2 separate regions of the Homo sapiens genome follow, and region 2 is linked to region 1. The links come from fine-mapping of genetic effects on gene expression. Tissue or cell type: cerebellum. Region 1 holds a variant in brackets; the other region holds the start of a gene. All regions are shown on one strand. Distances are from middle to middle.

Region 1 (8,081 bases):
GGATGGCCCCATGCTCACTCTTGCTGCAGGGGACGACGGGAGGGACTGGGAGACCAGGGAATGCCGACAGGGCTTGGAGCCGTCTCTCCCCGCTTCCCCCTGAAGTCCTGCCATCTGCCTCCCCGAAGTCCTGCCATCTGCCCGGCTTCTGCAGCCTGGTTTTCTCTCCTGCGAATCTCTCAAAGTGGTAAGAGCCCCAAGGATGCCGTCTATCTTCTGGAAGCTTCTGCATGGCTGGCCCTGGCCGCCATCCCACCTGCCCCTTGCCTCTTGCCCATGGTTGCCTTGACCTGGTCAGGCCGCCCTATGCCGCTGCTCTGCCTGGACCAGTCCCTGCTCCCTCCCTAGGCGTCACCTTCATGCTCCGCCCCACAGTGCCTGGTGACTGGGACAGACATCTAGGATGGGTGCCAAGGAGGACCCTGAAATGTCCAGTGCTGGACACTGGATGAGCTCGCCTGGATGAGCCACAGTGAGAGAACCAGGGAAGTTCAAGGTGATGCCCACGCCACCATCAGAAGCACTCGGGGAGGAAGCAGGTGGGAGCAGAGAACAGAGGATGCACAGAGCTGGAGGCCAGGGCAGCCTGAGGGGCAAGTGGGTCAGATGCAGGAGCACTGGCCCTGTCCGCCCCTCCAGGCACTGAACGGCCGGCTCACCCAGAGCAGGGACCACATTCCTGACTTTACCGCTGTATCCCCAACACCTAGAATGGCTCTTACCTCCGTTTTACAAGTAAATGAGTCAAGACATTCACTTCTAGTCCAAAAGGAATAAAGTACAATAGAGACCCATGGCCCCCAACACCTCGGGGTCCTTGGCACTTCCACCTGACCCCTGTACAGCTGTGACTGTTCCCGGCAGGATCGCAGCCTGCATCCCCTCAGGAGAACGGGGTGAGGAGGAAGCAGCACACACAGTAGTCGGGACTTACCTGGCCACTGATGTCCGACATCAGCCCCAGAGGAATGAGGCATTCCGGCTCACTTGCCTGCCCAGCCTCGTCCACAAACACGTGAGTGAAGTGCCCAACTCTAGAGCAAAGATGTTCTAAATGGTAATTTCTGCCGAATTGTTTTAGCAATTGATGCCTCTGACACACTGGCAAAGCCACGCTCAGCACCCCGGGGGCACAGCAGGGTTGCCCAGGGGTGTGCAGGAGCTGGGGGTCTGGGTGTCACCCGGCTGGAGGGAGGACAGGCCACAGGTGTCAGGAGATGCTAAGCCACATCAGCACCCAGTGCTTTGCACGCAGCGTCTGTATTTCTAGAGATGTGGAGGGAAGAAGGGGTGGGAGCGATGGGCAACACACGAGCGCCTCCTGGGGGCAGCTCACAGGAGAAGCGCCGCAGGCTCCTGGCCTGCTCTCCACCTGCGTCTCACTCCTGTCATTATCAAAATGCCCAGGCTCTAGTCCTGACTTCCCCTCTCTGAGCCTCCACCTCCCACGTGTCTCTCGGGAGGTGGCTGAGGTGAGAGCAGCTGAACTGGCCGCTGTAAAGCGCTGAGAACAGGCCTGGCCATGCAGGCGGCCACAGATGGCAGCCTCTCCTGCCATCCGCTCATTTCCTCCTGACTCATCCTTGTGAGCCACTCTCAGCTGGGCACTGCCTGGCCTGCATGCCAATAGGCTGAGGCCCTGGGAGCCACTTCCCAATCTGCGGCACCATTAAGAAAATGGGGTTGGTCGGGCGCAGTGGCTCACGCCTGTAATGCCAGCACTTTGGGAGGCCGAGATGGGTGGATCACGAGGTCAGGAGATCAAGACCATCCTGGCTAACACGGTGAAACCCCGTCTCTACTCAAAATACAAAAAAATTAGCCGGGTGTGGTGGCGGGCGCCTGTAGTCCCAGCTACTCGGGAAGCTGAGGCAGGAGAATGGCGTGAACCTGGGAGGCGGAGCTTGCAGTGAGCTGAGATCGCGCCACTGCACTCCAGCTTGGGTGACAGAGCAAGACTCCATCTCATAAAAAAAAAAAAAAAAGAAAAAAAGAAAATGCGGTCTCTAGAATGGCTCCCCACAATTCTGGCCCCTGCTGCAAACTCAGTGAGGTTCCCAGCTACAGAGCAGCCCTCCTGGCGGGTACCTGTCCGGCTCTTCCTTCTCCGTGTGACAAGGGAGGTAAGGGAGGTGCAGGAGCAGAGAGTCCACAGCGTTGCTGATGGACGGGGTGGGGATTTTGCGGGAAGGAGTCGTCAGGAGAAGCTGCGGAACTCTTGCATGGGAAGGCTGTGGGACTGAGCGGAGAGCAGGAGCTCGCTCGGCACATGATCTGTTTCTAGAGTGCAGAGGGGCCACCCCACCTGGGGCCATGAGCTGAGGAACAGGTGCCCCGGCTTCCCTGGCTCGCCCACCCCAGCAGCTTCTGCTCTGTGGTCAGGAGGCCTCAGTGGGGAAATGCTCTTGGGGCAGAAACATGTCCTGATGCCTGAGGAAGCAGGTATGGGGCAGAGAGAGTGTCCGGAGCCACGCCAACACTCAACAGGACGCACCTTGGGCCCGCACCGTCCTCACTGCCGAGCCCACGTTTACCCTTCTCACTGCTGATTCCAGGATCTCCCCTCTCCAACCCTAGATGCTGGGCAAATCCATCACCTCTGAGCCTCAGGTGTCCCACTGTGGGGTGAGACCCTGTGGTCAGACCTGTGCGGGGGCGGGCTCCTGCTTACAGCAGTGCTGGGCCCAACATGTCCTGCATCCACTCACGGTCAGCTGACACCTTTCACTTCAGGTATCAATGTGTAACTCTCAAGACACGGATTTCACAAGTGACACCGTGAACCCCTCCCAGTGAAAGATGTGGAAATCAGCAAACTGCCATTTCCCCATCTCATGTCCCTATTTCTGTTGAAAAAAATTAACATTATGTATCTTTCCTAGAATGTAAGTATTTAGGTTTCAATTCTGTATTAATTGCAGTTATTTAATGTCACTTTTGCCAGATGACATTGCTACTTCTTTGCCCTTTGAAGTGCCCCTCCCCACTCCAGCCGCCCCCAGTGGCCAACTAACGCTGTGGGGCCTCTGCAGCTGGGCTGCAGCACCCTCCCTGCTTCTGCACAGAGCGCCTCTGAGAGAGCGGCCTGCAGCACCCTCCCTGCTTCTGCACAGAGCGCCTCTGAGAGAGCGGCCTGCAGCACCCTCCCTGCTTCTGCACAGAGCGCCTCTGAGAGAGCGGCCTGCAGCACCCTCCCTGCTTCTGCACAGAGCGCCTCTGAGAGAGCGGCCTGCAGCACCCTCCCTGCTTCTGCACAGAGCGCCTCTGAGAGAGCGGCCTGCAGCACCCTCCCTGCTTCTGCACAGAGCGCCTCTGAGAGAGCGGCCTGCAGCACCCTCCCTGCTTCTGCACAGAGCGCCTCTGAGAGAGCGGCCTGCAGCACCCTCCCTGCTTCTGCACAGAGCGCCTCTGAGA[G/C]AGCGGCCTGCAGCACCCTCCCTGCTTCTGCACAGAGTGCCTCTGAGAGAGCGGCCTGCCCTGGCCGGCCACCTCCTCCCACTACCTGAACATCAGCTCCAGGGTGCAGGGTCCATGCAGTGCCCGCTCTGCCCCCAAAGAGCCCTCTGCACCCCAGTGAGGACTGGCTCTTCGGCTCTTGACCTTTGACTCATCAACACACATTAACAAAAAAAATCCCTGTCTTGTTCAGATCCGTGCTGTCCAATCCGGTAGCCACACACGGCTCTCGGGCACCGCACAGTGGCTAGTCTGAAACCTGACATGCTCTAAGTGTAAAATACATGGTGGATTTTGAAGACTTGAACCAAAAAAAATGTAAAGTGTCTCATCAATCACGTTCTACTAATCTCATGATGAAAGGACATCATGTATGTGAGAGAGTTAAACGCGCCGATGAAACCATCCGTGACACGCTGTGATAGGCGTGGCTGGCTGTGCCTTTGCTCCATGTGGAGCTGACGGACCACCTCCTGTGGTCACCCTCACGACCACCGTGACGCTGGACACTGTCCAGGGTGACCTGTCTCCAGGCTGTCAGGGAGGGTCACGACCACTGTGACGCTGGACACTGTTCAGAGCGACCTGTCTCCAGGCCGTCAGGGAGGGTGGGGCTTCCCTCAGAGGCCCTGGCTTCTCCCTCTCTCACCCTCAGCCTGTGCCCCCGACACTGTCTGGCTCTATGCACTGAGAGGGAGCTGCCTGCTGCCTCCCCGACCCCACCCCCCTGCACTGGGGTCTGAGAGTGCCTTGGTCCTCACTCAGCCTCCCTGGGCTCGAAGCTCTTCCTCCCAGCCCCCAGGGGAGGTCCTCCTATGACAGCCGGCACCCCACAATCCATCTCCTCCGCCTGTCTCCCCTGAAGAGCCCCCAGCGCCAGGGACACAAATGGCCCCCAGGGTCTGACCTTACAGAGCCCAGCCGTTTCCTAGGCAGCCTGCCTCCCCACGCCCACTCCAAGAGACTCACTCTCCTGCTCAGAAGCCCTTCACTGGCTTCCCGGCTCACCAGAGGTCGTCCAAAGGCCCCTCCACAGCCCGCCAGGCCTCCCCCTCACCACCCCTTTCAGGCCGTTCCTGCTCACGAGGCTCTGGCTCTACAGTCTCCTTTGGGGAGACCTCAGTGCTCCCCCACCGCGGGGCCTCTGCATGGGCCAGTCCATCTGCCTGCCCATCCCACTGCTGGCTCCTTCGAGTCCTTGGGGTCTCGGCTTCCCCAGCTCCATTCAGGCACGGCCCTCCCCAACCAGCCTTTCTCGCCCACAGCCCTGCCTCCCTCCCTGAGCACTGAGTCTCTGGGTCATCCGCCCCTCAGACAGAAGCTAGGAGAGGACTCCGACCTCTGCCCTGGGAGGCCCCATGCCGCGCTCCATGCCCGGGGCTCACCTCACTCCTATTTGGTAAAACAGCCCTGAGCTGCTGCATGTGGTGATGATTATCCGGAAGCGTGAGGCTTTCCAGATGTCTTCTCCGTCTCTGCAATACGGTTTGACGGCGTCAATAACTATCTGGGGGCAAGGAGGCGTAGAGTTAGTTTACTCCTCCAATTATTAAGCAGAATTCCAAAAGGGAACCTTGCCCTGGTACCACTTCTTAGTTACGTCTAAGTCATGATTTAAGGTTTTTTTCTCAAAATATCTCATACTTCCTTATCAATTCAGTCCATGTTTTATCAACTCTAGAGCCACAAATATAACACATAATCCTGCAGACCCTTCCCCAAAACAACTTTGTACATTTTCTATTCAGTTTGTTTGTTTGTTTATTTAGAGAGGGAGTCTTGCTCTTGCTCTGTCGCCCAGGCTGGAGTGCAATGGTGCAATCTCGGCTCACTGCAACCTCTGCCTCCCAGGTTCAAGTGATTCTCCTGCTTCGGCCTCCGGAGTAGCTGGGATTACAGGCGCATGCCACCACGCCCAGCTATTTTCAATGTCTTTTTTAAACGCAATATTTCAGGCTGGGCACAGTGGCTAAAGCCTGTAATCTCAACACTTTGGGAGGCAGAGGCGGGTGGATCACTTGAGATCAGGAGTTCGTGACCAGCCTGACCAACATGGTGAAACCCTGTCTCTACTAAAAATACAAAATTAGCTGGATGTGGTGGCACACACCTGTAATCCTAGGTACTTAGGAGGCTGAGGCAGGAGAATTGCTTGAACCCGGGAGGCGGAGGTTGCAGTTAGCCAAGATCACACCACTGCACTCCAGCCTGGGCAACAAGAGCAAAAACTCTGTCTCAAACAAACAAAAAAATAAAAGCAATACTTCGCTCTATAACCAAACCAGCAACTTAAAGGAATACTTAAAACCAAACCAGGCCGGGCACGGTGGCTCACGCCTGTAATCCCAGCACTTTGGGAGGCCGAGGCGGGCAGATCATGAGGTCAGGAGATCGAGACCATCCTGGCTAACACGGTGAAACTCCGTCTCTACTAAAAATACAAAAAATTAGCCGGGCGCAGTGGCGGGTGCCTGTAGTCCCAGCTACTTGGGAGGCTGAGGCCAGAGAATGGTGTGAACCTGGGAGGCGGAGCTTGCAGTGAGCCGAGATCATGCCACTGCACTTCAGCCTGGGCGACACAGCGAGACTCCGTCTCAAAAAAAAAAAACAAAACAAAACAAAAAACACCAAACCAACAAAACAAAACTACTTAAAAAGTAACAAGACGTTTGGGGATTAAATAAAAGAGGAATGTGATAATTTTACAATGCTACGAATGCCCACAATAGGTGTGATAACTCACACAGAGTGAGAATGTGATGAAATAGTCAGCAATCAAGCTCCACCATTTAGCGGTGAGGGAGGGCCCATGGCAGAGCCATTTCTCAAACACAGCTTTCTGTGGCGCCTCTGTGCCCACCCTCCTACCCCTGCCCTCCCCTGTCCACTTGGCATTTCCTATGTTCCAGGGAGGGGTTCTGGTGCCCCCCACTGCTTGCACCAAGGGCTCACCTCCTCGAACCTGCAGGTGGCGTTCACCCGGACCATGGTGGCCGGCTGTAGCACCTTGCTCTCGTGCAGCCGCAGACACACGAGGTCAGCAGCACTGTTGGAGGGCGCACAGACTAAAATCCGACTGTCCGGCAAGGCAAAGTGTACCTTCATCAAAGACACACAAGAGACCAAGGCTCAACATCCACACCGCAAGGTGGAAACCAGGAGTCTAACCTCAACACACACATTCGGGTGCAGGGACTCAGCTGCATGGGCTCAGATGCCAGCCCCCAACACACTGAGACCTGGGCCACGACTCTGCCTCATCACACTGCTGCCAAAGCATGGGTTAGGTGGGAAGGTTCTCCGCACTCTCTAAGATTCTAAACCACCTTTCAGGGCAGAAACAGAGTCAGATTCATCTGCACACATCTGGCGTGTGGTACAATTGTGCGCTCAATACCTGTTTGCTAATTTGAATCCTGAATGACGCTAAATGTAGATGGTCTTCGGCTTATGATGGTTTGACTTAACGCTTTTTTGACTTTATGATGGTGTGAAGACCATCCCCAGTCAGTCTGCTCCTCACCTGACAAGGGATCATGCCTTGATGAACCTGAAACAGGCTTCCCAAATCCCATTACGATGGGTTATTGGGTTGTAACCCCATCAAAAGTTAAGAAGCATCTGTAGACAATAGTTTCATAAACTTAACTTCAATTACAAATGAAGATATCTAAAACTTCTGTGGAATGGTGGCTGTAGCTACTATAAGAGTAACTTCTTTTCTGCAGCAAAATGTCATGATTCAGATAAAATAGTTTACCAGGCTAAAAATGAGTTTCCTTCTAAACCTATGAAATAAGCTTTTAAATCCCTACATATCCACAAAAACAGACTTAACATTATGAAATAACTGGTATTTCTCAAGCTCTTTCCAACTGTCTGATTCTACAATCTAAACTCACACTTCCTGAAGACACAGACGACACATGAACAGCAGCACAGAGCCACAGCACCCGCGGCGCCGCTGTCCTTACCTGTAAAACAGCCTCTATTATTGTCACTGTCTTTCCAGTACCAGGAGGTCCAAAGAGAATATACGGGAGGGGACGGCAGTCACCACTCAGAATCCTTTTAACTGCTAACTTCTGATTTTCATTTAGCACTGGGTTGAAAAACTCCATCTTTCTTGCTTTAGGGGTCTGAATTTCATCTACTGTATTCAAAGTGAAGAAAGTTTCAGTTAGATGCAAACAGCTCTCAACAGCTGTGGACACGTCCTCACCTAGGTCAGGCGTCAGCACGTCTGTGCAAAGGCTAAATCAGAGTCACAGACAGGGAGTAGCTCTTCAGTGTGACCAGGGGTAAGATGCGCACAGGGCATTCCTCTTAATAATCTGTTTGCATTTTTTTTTTCTTTTTTGAGACAGGGTCTCGCTCTGTCACCCAGCTTGGAGTACAGTGGCACAATCTCAGCTCACTGTAACCTCCATCTCCTGAGCTCAAGCGATCCTCCCACGTCAGCCTCCCGGGTAGCTGGGACCACAGGCGCCCACCACCACACCTGGCTAATTTTTGTATTTTTTTTTTTTTATAGAGACAAGGTTTCGCCATGTTGTCCAGGTTGGTCTCGAACTCCTGAGCTCATATGATCTGCCCACCTTAGCTTCCCAAAAGTGTTAGGATGACAG
Region 2 (8,075 bases), 56 kb after region 1:
TTAGTTTTAATAAATCGAAACTGCTGCACATGAGTGGTGGCTACCATATTGAATGATGGAATTCTAGACTTTGAATTATTTTATTGGGTATGCTTTTTTTTTAATTTGAGAAAGATGATACTAAGCATTAGATGGTACTAACTATAATAGTATAATAAAGTACATCTCAAGTATTTTTAAAAAGTAGTTAATAGCTCAATACGTTTGCCAGATTCCAAATTACATTTAAAAATCGCTGGGCATGGTGGCTCATGCCTGTAATCCCGGCACTTTGGGAGGCCGAGGTGGCGGATCACGAGGTCAGGAGATCGAGACCATCCTGGCTAACACAGTGAAACCCCATCTCTACTAAAAATACAAAAAATTAGCTGGGCGTGGTGGCAGGCGCCTGTAGTCCCAGCTACTCTGGAGGCTGAGGCAGGAGAATGGTGTGAACCCAGAAGATGGAGCTTGCAGTGAGCCAAGATCATGCCACTGCACTCCAGCCTGGGTGACAGAGCGAGACTCCGTCTCAAAAAAAAAAAAAAAAAATTGAAAGCTTTCCCATACAGGAAGAAAAAGATTAATTTGAAAATACGATGGAAAATGATGTTAATAGAACACATAAAAACTCCTGAAAATAAATTTAGTAAGAAATTTACAGGACCTAAAAGAAGAAAACTATTGAACTATAAAAAGAATACAAAGGAAGGCTTAAATAAATGGACAGACATATGGAAAAGACTCCATATGACCCAAATATCAATTATTCTAAATGAAATGCATAAACTCAGTGCCATCCAAAGCAAATCTGGGCAGAGGGGGAGAAACAAGATTCCAAACTCATCCAGAACATGTGAAGAGCCAGAAAAATACCATATGCTAATAAGAGCAAAGAAGGGAAACCTGCTCACCACCTATCACAGCAACCATGCCATGGGGCCCCCTTACAAGCATCAGGACCACATCACATGCAGGTGGGATTCTGATACATGATTAAGGAATTTTCCAAATCAGCAGGGAAAAAGTGAGCTACTCAGATGACTGGCTAGCCATTAGGAAAGCAATGTCTGGTTCCTTCTCTCAGTCTGTGCACCCAAATAAATTCCAGGCAGGTCAAATATTTAAATATCAACAAACAGGCCAGGCATGGTGGCTCATGCCTGTAATCCCAACACTTTGGGAGGCCGAGGTGGAAGGACCACTCGAGGCCAGGAGTTTCAGATCAGCCTACGCAACACAGTGAGACGCCATTTCTACAAAAAAATTTTAAAAATTAGTCAGGTATGATGGTGTACACCTGTGGTCCCAGTTACTCAGGAGGCTGAGGTGGAAGAATCGCTTGAGCTCAGGAGTTCCAGGCTGCAGTGAACTATAATCGCACTACTATACTCCAGCCTGGGCGACAGCGCAAAGCTCTGTCTCAAAAATTGAAAAAAAAATTCTAATTGTCAATAAACAATTTTCAGAGTAAAATTTGAATATTAGGAATAAGAAGTGGAATAAGCCTCCCTAAGGCTTCTTACAGCATCCAAAAGCTACATGGAAAAGAGGCACACTTAACTACAAAAAATGAAACTATAAAACACAGTCAAAGATGATCCTGGGGAAAATATTCCTAACACTTTCATATAATAATTTTCCTTAAAAAGCTCTGATTTCCCTAATATATAAGCTTTAACAAAAGAAAAAGCTGAACTCAACAAAAATGTGGACAAAGGACCCAAAAATAATTCATAGAAAAAACATGAGGCCGGGCGCGGTGGCTCACACCTGTAATCCTAGCACTTTGGGAGGCTGAGGTGGGCAGATCACGAGGTCAGGAGCTCCAGACCATCCTGGCTAACACGGTGAAACCCCGTCTCTACTAAAAATACAAAAAAATTAACTGGGTGTGGTGGTGGGTGCCTGTAGTCCCAGCTACTCAGGAGGCTGAGGCAGGAGAATGGCGTGAACCCAGGAGGCGGAGCTTGCAGTGAGCTGAGATTGCGTCACTGCACTCCAGCCTGGGCGACAGAGACTCCGTCTCAGAAAAAAACAAAAACAAAAACAAAAAGAAAAAGAAAAGTTACCATACTTAAGGCTTAAGTGCAAATTAAGTGCAGTCTCTCATTCTGCTCCTAAGAGTATAAATTTGTATATTATTGATGTTACTTTGGTGATAACCATTAAATTGTTGAAAAAGCAAGAAAATAATGGATATATAATTGCTATGTTCTCCACAGCATAAATTCATAGGCAAACTTTACTTTCTAAAGTATACATGTCTATGTTGTTTGAATGATTTACAAAGACTGCTGTTTGTTTATTTATTGAGACAGGGTCTTGCTCTGTCATCCAGGCTGGAGTGTGGTAGTGCAATCATAACTCATTGCAGCCTTGACCCTCTGGGCTCAAGCGATCCTCCCGCCTCAGCCTCCCATGTAGCTGGGACTACAGGTATGTGCCACGACACCAGGCTAACTTTTGTGGGTTTTTTTTTTGTAGACACGAGGTTTCACCATGCTGCCCAGGCTGGTCTCTTAACACCTGAGCTCAAGTGATCTGCCTGTCTCAGCCTTCCAAAGTGCTGGGATTACAGGCGTGAGCCACTGTACCCAGTCTATTTTTTAAAACATAAATCATAAAGAGCAAAAGCATCCCCTTGAAGGTACATTCCACTCTTTCTCCCTTGGCCGGGTCATGTCTGATAGATTAAACACAAGGAAAAACAACACAAAGTCCCGTGGCGAAGAAAAACTGTTCCCAAATGAACTCAAACCTTACCCTGATTGCTTTCAGTCCATTGGACACTTTATTTTCTTCCACAACTGCAATCACTTCCTGTCCAACATTCAGAAGCACTCTGCTAGTCACAGCATCACTGGAGAAGTAGATCATATCATCAATCATGCCATAATCGCTGCAGTACCTTGTCACGACACCCCGTACAGTTTTCAGCTTAGTGTCACCTGAGGTAGGTAAACAAAGAAGTTATCTTGGCCATAAAAGCAAGCGTACGCTACAGTGAACCCCACCAGAGAAAGGCAGAGTGCAAAAGCCTCCTTTTTTTGCAGTTCGGAGGCACTGACTCCGAACGGGCTGACTTGAGACAGAGAGAATCCCATCAGAGAGTGCTGTGTCTGGAACGTGGGGTTTGGAGGCAGACAGCCCAGTTTCCTCAGAAGGGCACAGGTAGTGGTTGTGGAGGTGACAGCCCTGACTCCACAACAGACTGCATGGGGTTGACTCCTAGCTCTTCTACTGCCATTGGTGTAACCCTGGACTAGGTCCTTAACTACTCTGGGCCTGTTGCCATCTGTAAGATGGAGACTAATCGTCACTACCCAAGAGAGCTGCTGAAGGGTTAAGTGGCAGAACACACGTGCATGTATGGACCTCTGCGTGGCTGACACGCGTTAAGTGCTATGTAAATGGCCACTTATATCAGCATCTGGGAGTCATTAGCATGCACGGTTTTATTAGTACTATCGATTATCTTTTTATTACCATCAGCAGCAGCCTCGGAAGACTGGAGAATCTCAACAAACACGGTGCTGGAAAAGGTTCGGGGCTGGGCAGACAAGTCTGGCCCAGGAGCAGCGCACGCCCTCAGCCGTCTGGCCACTGCTGCAGCCACGGTCCTGAGTCCTGAACGTGCCTTTACTGCAGCTTCCCAGCCACGGGAGGAACCTGGGGCGACGGTTACAGTACAGGCATAGGATCTGAGCGCTGCCAAGAGCTGGAGCTCCAGCTACCGCTGAGCGCGTGTTCTACCGAAGAGATCCACGGAGCAAGTGCTCCAGGTAACACAGCCGGCCCCCCGGGCATCGGCCCTCGTGGATCCAGAGGCCCTGAACACGCTGCCTGCAGCAGGAAGCTCCCCTCCTGAAGCCTGTTCCTGTCTTTTCTCACAGAAGGCAATTAGGGACCCACTACTGTGGATTCCATTCCCACATAAGGAAACATCGGGAGAAGCCATCAGAACCTCGGGAGAGGTCGGGCGTGGTGGCTCAAGCCTGTAATCCCAGCACTTTGGGAGGCCAAGGTGGGTGGGTCACCTGAGATCAGGAGTTCGAGACCAGCCTGACCAACATGGCGAACCCCCCCTCGACTAAAAATACAAAAATTAGCCGGGCGTGGTGGCGGGTGCCTATAATCCCCGCTGCTCGGGAGGCTGAGGCAGGAGAATCACTTGAACCCAGAAGGCGGAGGTTGCGGTGAGCCGAGATTGCGCCACTGCACTCCAGCCTGGGCAACAAGAGCGAAACTCCGTCTCACACACACACACACACAAACACCTCAGGAGAAAGGAACGGTGAGGGCATCCGGGCGCATCCCGGGCTTTAGAAAGATGGGCTTGAAAACCAGACAAGGAAATGGCACGCCTTGGCGCAGCGCGTTCTGAAAGGACAGGCCAAGTCTGCGGGGCCGCGTTTTTCGGGGCTTTCTAGACACACCACCGCCAATGACGCTGCGGACAGGGAGGAACGACATGGAGAGACGACTTGGCAGCTGCTCGGCGTAAACACACAAAGTGAGGGCGGGAAGAGGGGCTGGTGTCACCGGAGAGACCTCACAGAGGACGGGCGCCCAGAGCGGCGGGATGCTGTGGGGTCGGAAGCCTCCTGAGGCGAACGGGGATCCCCGCCAGCGGAGATGAGGAAAGGCCGGGCCCAGCGTTGCCTGCCGGCCCGCACTGCACTCAAAGACCTATGGGCGCGGCTCCCTCGTGGCCGACACGCGAGGGCCCGGGACCCGCCTCCCAGCCGCCTCCCGCGAGCCACCTTCCGCGAGCTCGGGCTCCAGCTGCCCGGCTTCCTCCCTAGGGGTGTCCGCCGTCCTCCAGAAGAAGGCCACCAGCTTGGCTGCGAGGCTCAGCATGGCCCTCGCCCGGCCTAGGCTGCCGTCACCGCCGCTGCCGCCGCCCGCACGCGCCCGCGCCGCTCCCGCCGCCCGCCACCAATGGGGTCGCCGCGCCTGGGCATGCGCCTTGGGGTCGTTGCGCGAGCCGGGACCCGTAGCGGTCAGAGGTCGGCGGTTGGCGCCTGGCAGCTCCTGACAAGGCGAGGTGCCTGGTGGGAGTGACGTCATGCCGAGCGCGCAAGGCGGTGTGACCGCCGGGTGGGCGGGGCTTCGAGCGGGCGGGCGGGGCCTCGCGTGGGTGGGCGGAGCTTCGAGCGGGTCCGCCTTCTTGCCGCCCACACATTAGGGAAAAGTGCGCTTTCACCACCCAGAGTGATGTTAGGAGTCGTTTTTTGTTGGTGTTTTTTATCAAGTTGAGGAAGTTCCCTCTATTCCTGTTTTTCCAAGAGTTCTTATGAGTGGGTGTGAAATTTTCTGCAACGCTTTTCTGCATGTATTCAAATGATCCTGTAGCTTTTTATTTCAGCCCATAGGGAATTACATTGTTTGGCTCTCCTTGGAAAACTCACTTGGTCACGATTCGTTATCCTTTTGGTGTATTGCCTGACTCAGCTTGGTAACGCTTTGTCCAAGGTTGGGGACGGTGCTGGTGAAGCAGATTGCTCTGTGGCCGACCTCCCGTTTTCTGTGTCTGTCTGGTTTGGGGTCGGTTTAAGCCGGGCCTGCAGTGACCTGGGAGTAGGATGGGGTAACTTATTCCCTAAAAATTGTGGTAGTATTCGCTGGGGAACCCATTTGGGCTTCGAGATTTCTTTGTGGGAAGGTTTTTAATGAGAAATTCACTTCTGCATCAGCTAGAGGGCTATTCAAGTTATCAAGGTAATATTGAATAAACTTTGGTAATTCTTTTAAGGAATTTGTCCATTTCATCCAATTATTAGATGTCAGATTATTGGCATAAAGTTGTTCAGCATATTTCCTTATTATCCTTTTAACGTCTGTATGGTCCATAATGATGAGCCATCTTTCATTCTTGACATAGGTAATTTATCTCATCCCTCTCATTTTCCTTGATCAGTCTATATTTATCAATTTTATTGAGTTTTTAAAAAAAATCATCCCTTGATTTCATTGATTTTTCTCTATTTTAAAAATATCTTTACACTTTGCGAGGCCAAGGTGAGCAGATCACTTGAGGTCAGGAGTTCGAGACCAGCCTGGTCAACCTGCCAAAATCCTGTCTCTACAAAAAAATACAAAAAAAATTAGCCAGGCATGGTGGCGCATGCCTGTAATCCCAACTACTTGGGAGGCTGAAGCAGAAGAATCACTTGAACCCAGGAGGTGGAGGTTGCAGTGAGCTGAGATCACACCACTACACTCCAGCCTGGGAGACAGAGCAAGACTCTGCCTCAAAACAAAAACAAAAACAAAATACGTATATATATCTTTACTATTCCAGTGGTTTCTGTTTTTTATTATTTCTTTTTTTTTTTTTTTGAGATGGAGTCCTGCTCCGTCGCCCAGGCTGGAATGCAGTGGCATGATCTTAGCTCACTGTAGCCTCCACCTCCCGGGTTCAAGTGATTCTCCTGCCTCAGCCTCCAGAGCAGCTGGGATTACAGGCGTGCGCCACCACGCTGGCTTTTTTTTTTTTTTTTTTTTTTTTTTTTTTTTGTATTTTTAGTAGCGACAAGGTTTTACCATGTTGGTCAGGCTGGTCTCGAACTTCTGACCCGCAGGTGATCCACCCGCCTTGGCCTCCCGAGTGCTGGGATTACAGGTGTGAGCCACTGCGCCCAGCCCCGACTTATTTTTGATTGACATAGCTTTATTTTCCTAGGTCAGATCTGTCAGTCTGATGACAGCCTGGACCTTGCCTGTCCATGGATGCAGAGTGTACTGATAGTTCTTGCTGTGGGAAGGGAGAGAGTGGCGCACTCCCTAGCATTTCAAATCCCCGCTAAGCCTGTGTCTTGGGCTGGGTGCTGGAACACATACAGGAGCCAGCAGGGTCCCAGGGACCTACTGGTTGGTGGGAGATTAGCTTGGAAACAAGAGCGAGCTGCATGAGGGCTGGTGGCTCATGGGCTCCCTGCCAGGGCAGCTCGCAGCGGGTGCTGTGCCTGCAGGGCTGCCCCTCAGCTCCCCAGCTCGGGCCACTCCCTGGGATTCTGGACTCAGTAGACCCGGCAGATGCCCACAGACATCTCGGCCTCATCATGTCCAGAATGGAACTCCAGATCCTCGCTCCACACCTGCTCCACCCTGGTCTTCTCATCTCTGTCCTCACTGCTCAGACAGAACTCAGCAACGTCGCCCTGACAGCAGATTGCGTCCGCTCTTCAAACCCTGTTCAGAGCCCAGTCCCTCCTCACCACTTGCCCACTGCCACCTCAATGCCAGGCAGCACCTGCTCCTCCCACCCCCCAGCCTGCTCTCCACCCAGTGAGTGACCGGATGCTGCTCTGCCCAGACCCCTCCAGCAGGTCTGTCTCAGAGTTGAAGCAGAGTCGTCTCCATACCCACAGGTGCTGGCACCTGGCTGTCCTACCTGTATCCCCCTTGCATGGTCCTCGCCTGCCTTCCCCAACCTGTGGCCTTTGCTTCAACTCTGCCAGCCTCCCCTCCCTGCCTCCTTCTCACTGAGGCCTGCCCTGGCCCCTGCAAACAGCAGCCCCTCATTTCTCTCCCCTGACTTCTTTTCCCTCATAGAGGAAATCATGTGTGTCACTGGATGCATTAGTCTGTTCTCACGCTGCTATAAGGACATACCCAAGACTGGGTAATTTTAGAGTCAAGTCCTTATAAAGGAAAGAGCTTTAATTGACTCACAGTTCCACAGGGCTGAGGAGGCCTCAGGAAACTTACAATCATGGTGGAAGGGGAAGCAAACATGTCCTTCTTCACAAGGTGGCAGGAAGGAGAAGTCTTGAGCAAAAGCGGGGAAAGCCCCTTATAAAAGACCATCAGATCTCATAAGACCTCACTCATTGTCAGGAGAACAGCAGCATGGGGGTAACCACCCCCATGATTCAATTACCTCCCACCGGGCCCCTTCCACGACATGTAGGAATTATGGGAATTACAATTCAAGATGAGATTTGAGTGGGGACACAGCCAAACCATATCACTGTATAACACACTAATTTGTTTATCCTGTGCACTCCTGTGCCCCCAATGAATGTAAACAGCCTATAGGAAGGACGTCACTTCTTTGTCCACCCCATAAATGTTTGTTGAATGTTGAA

Which allele goes with the higher level. Positions count from the first base shown, and alleles are read on the strand shown. Sizes are in standard deviations (SD) of each study's normalised expression.
For the expression in cerebellum of the gene that starts at base 4,925 in region 2, allele G in region 1 goes with a lower level than allele C (moderate effect, 0.75 SD a copy in GTEx).

What was found. PIP is the estimated chance that this variant, and not a neighbour inherited with it, causes the effect.
Region 2: it holds the start of MOV10L1, and the variant in region 1 is fine-mapped to the expression of MOV10L1 in cerebellum (GTEx, PIP 0.99).

The regions. Positions count from the first base shown.
Region 1 is chr22:50,142,568-50,150,648 of GRCh38, reverse strand. It overlaps MOV10L1 (Mov10 like RNA helicase 1), which reads right to left. Exons shown (of 27, transcript NM_018995.3): 17 at 7,428-7,606; 18 at 6,406-6,552; 19 at 4,839-4,960; 20 at 935-1,034. Among named protein-coding and RNA genes, the nearest start is that of PANX2, 24 kb to the left of the region's middle. The variant G/C (reference allele first, on the strand shown) is at 3,415.
Region 2 is chr22:50,086,856-50,094,930 of GRCh38, reverse strand. It overlaps MOV10L1 (Mov10 like RNA helicase 1), which reads right to left and starts at 4,925. Exons shown (of 27, transcript NM_018995.3): 1 at 4,746-4,925; 2 at 2,746-2,930. The coding sequence starts at 4,842.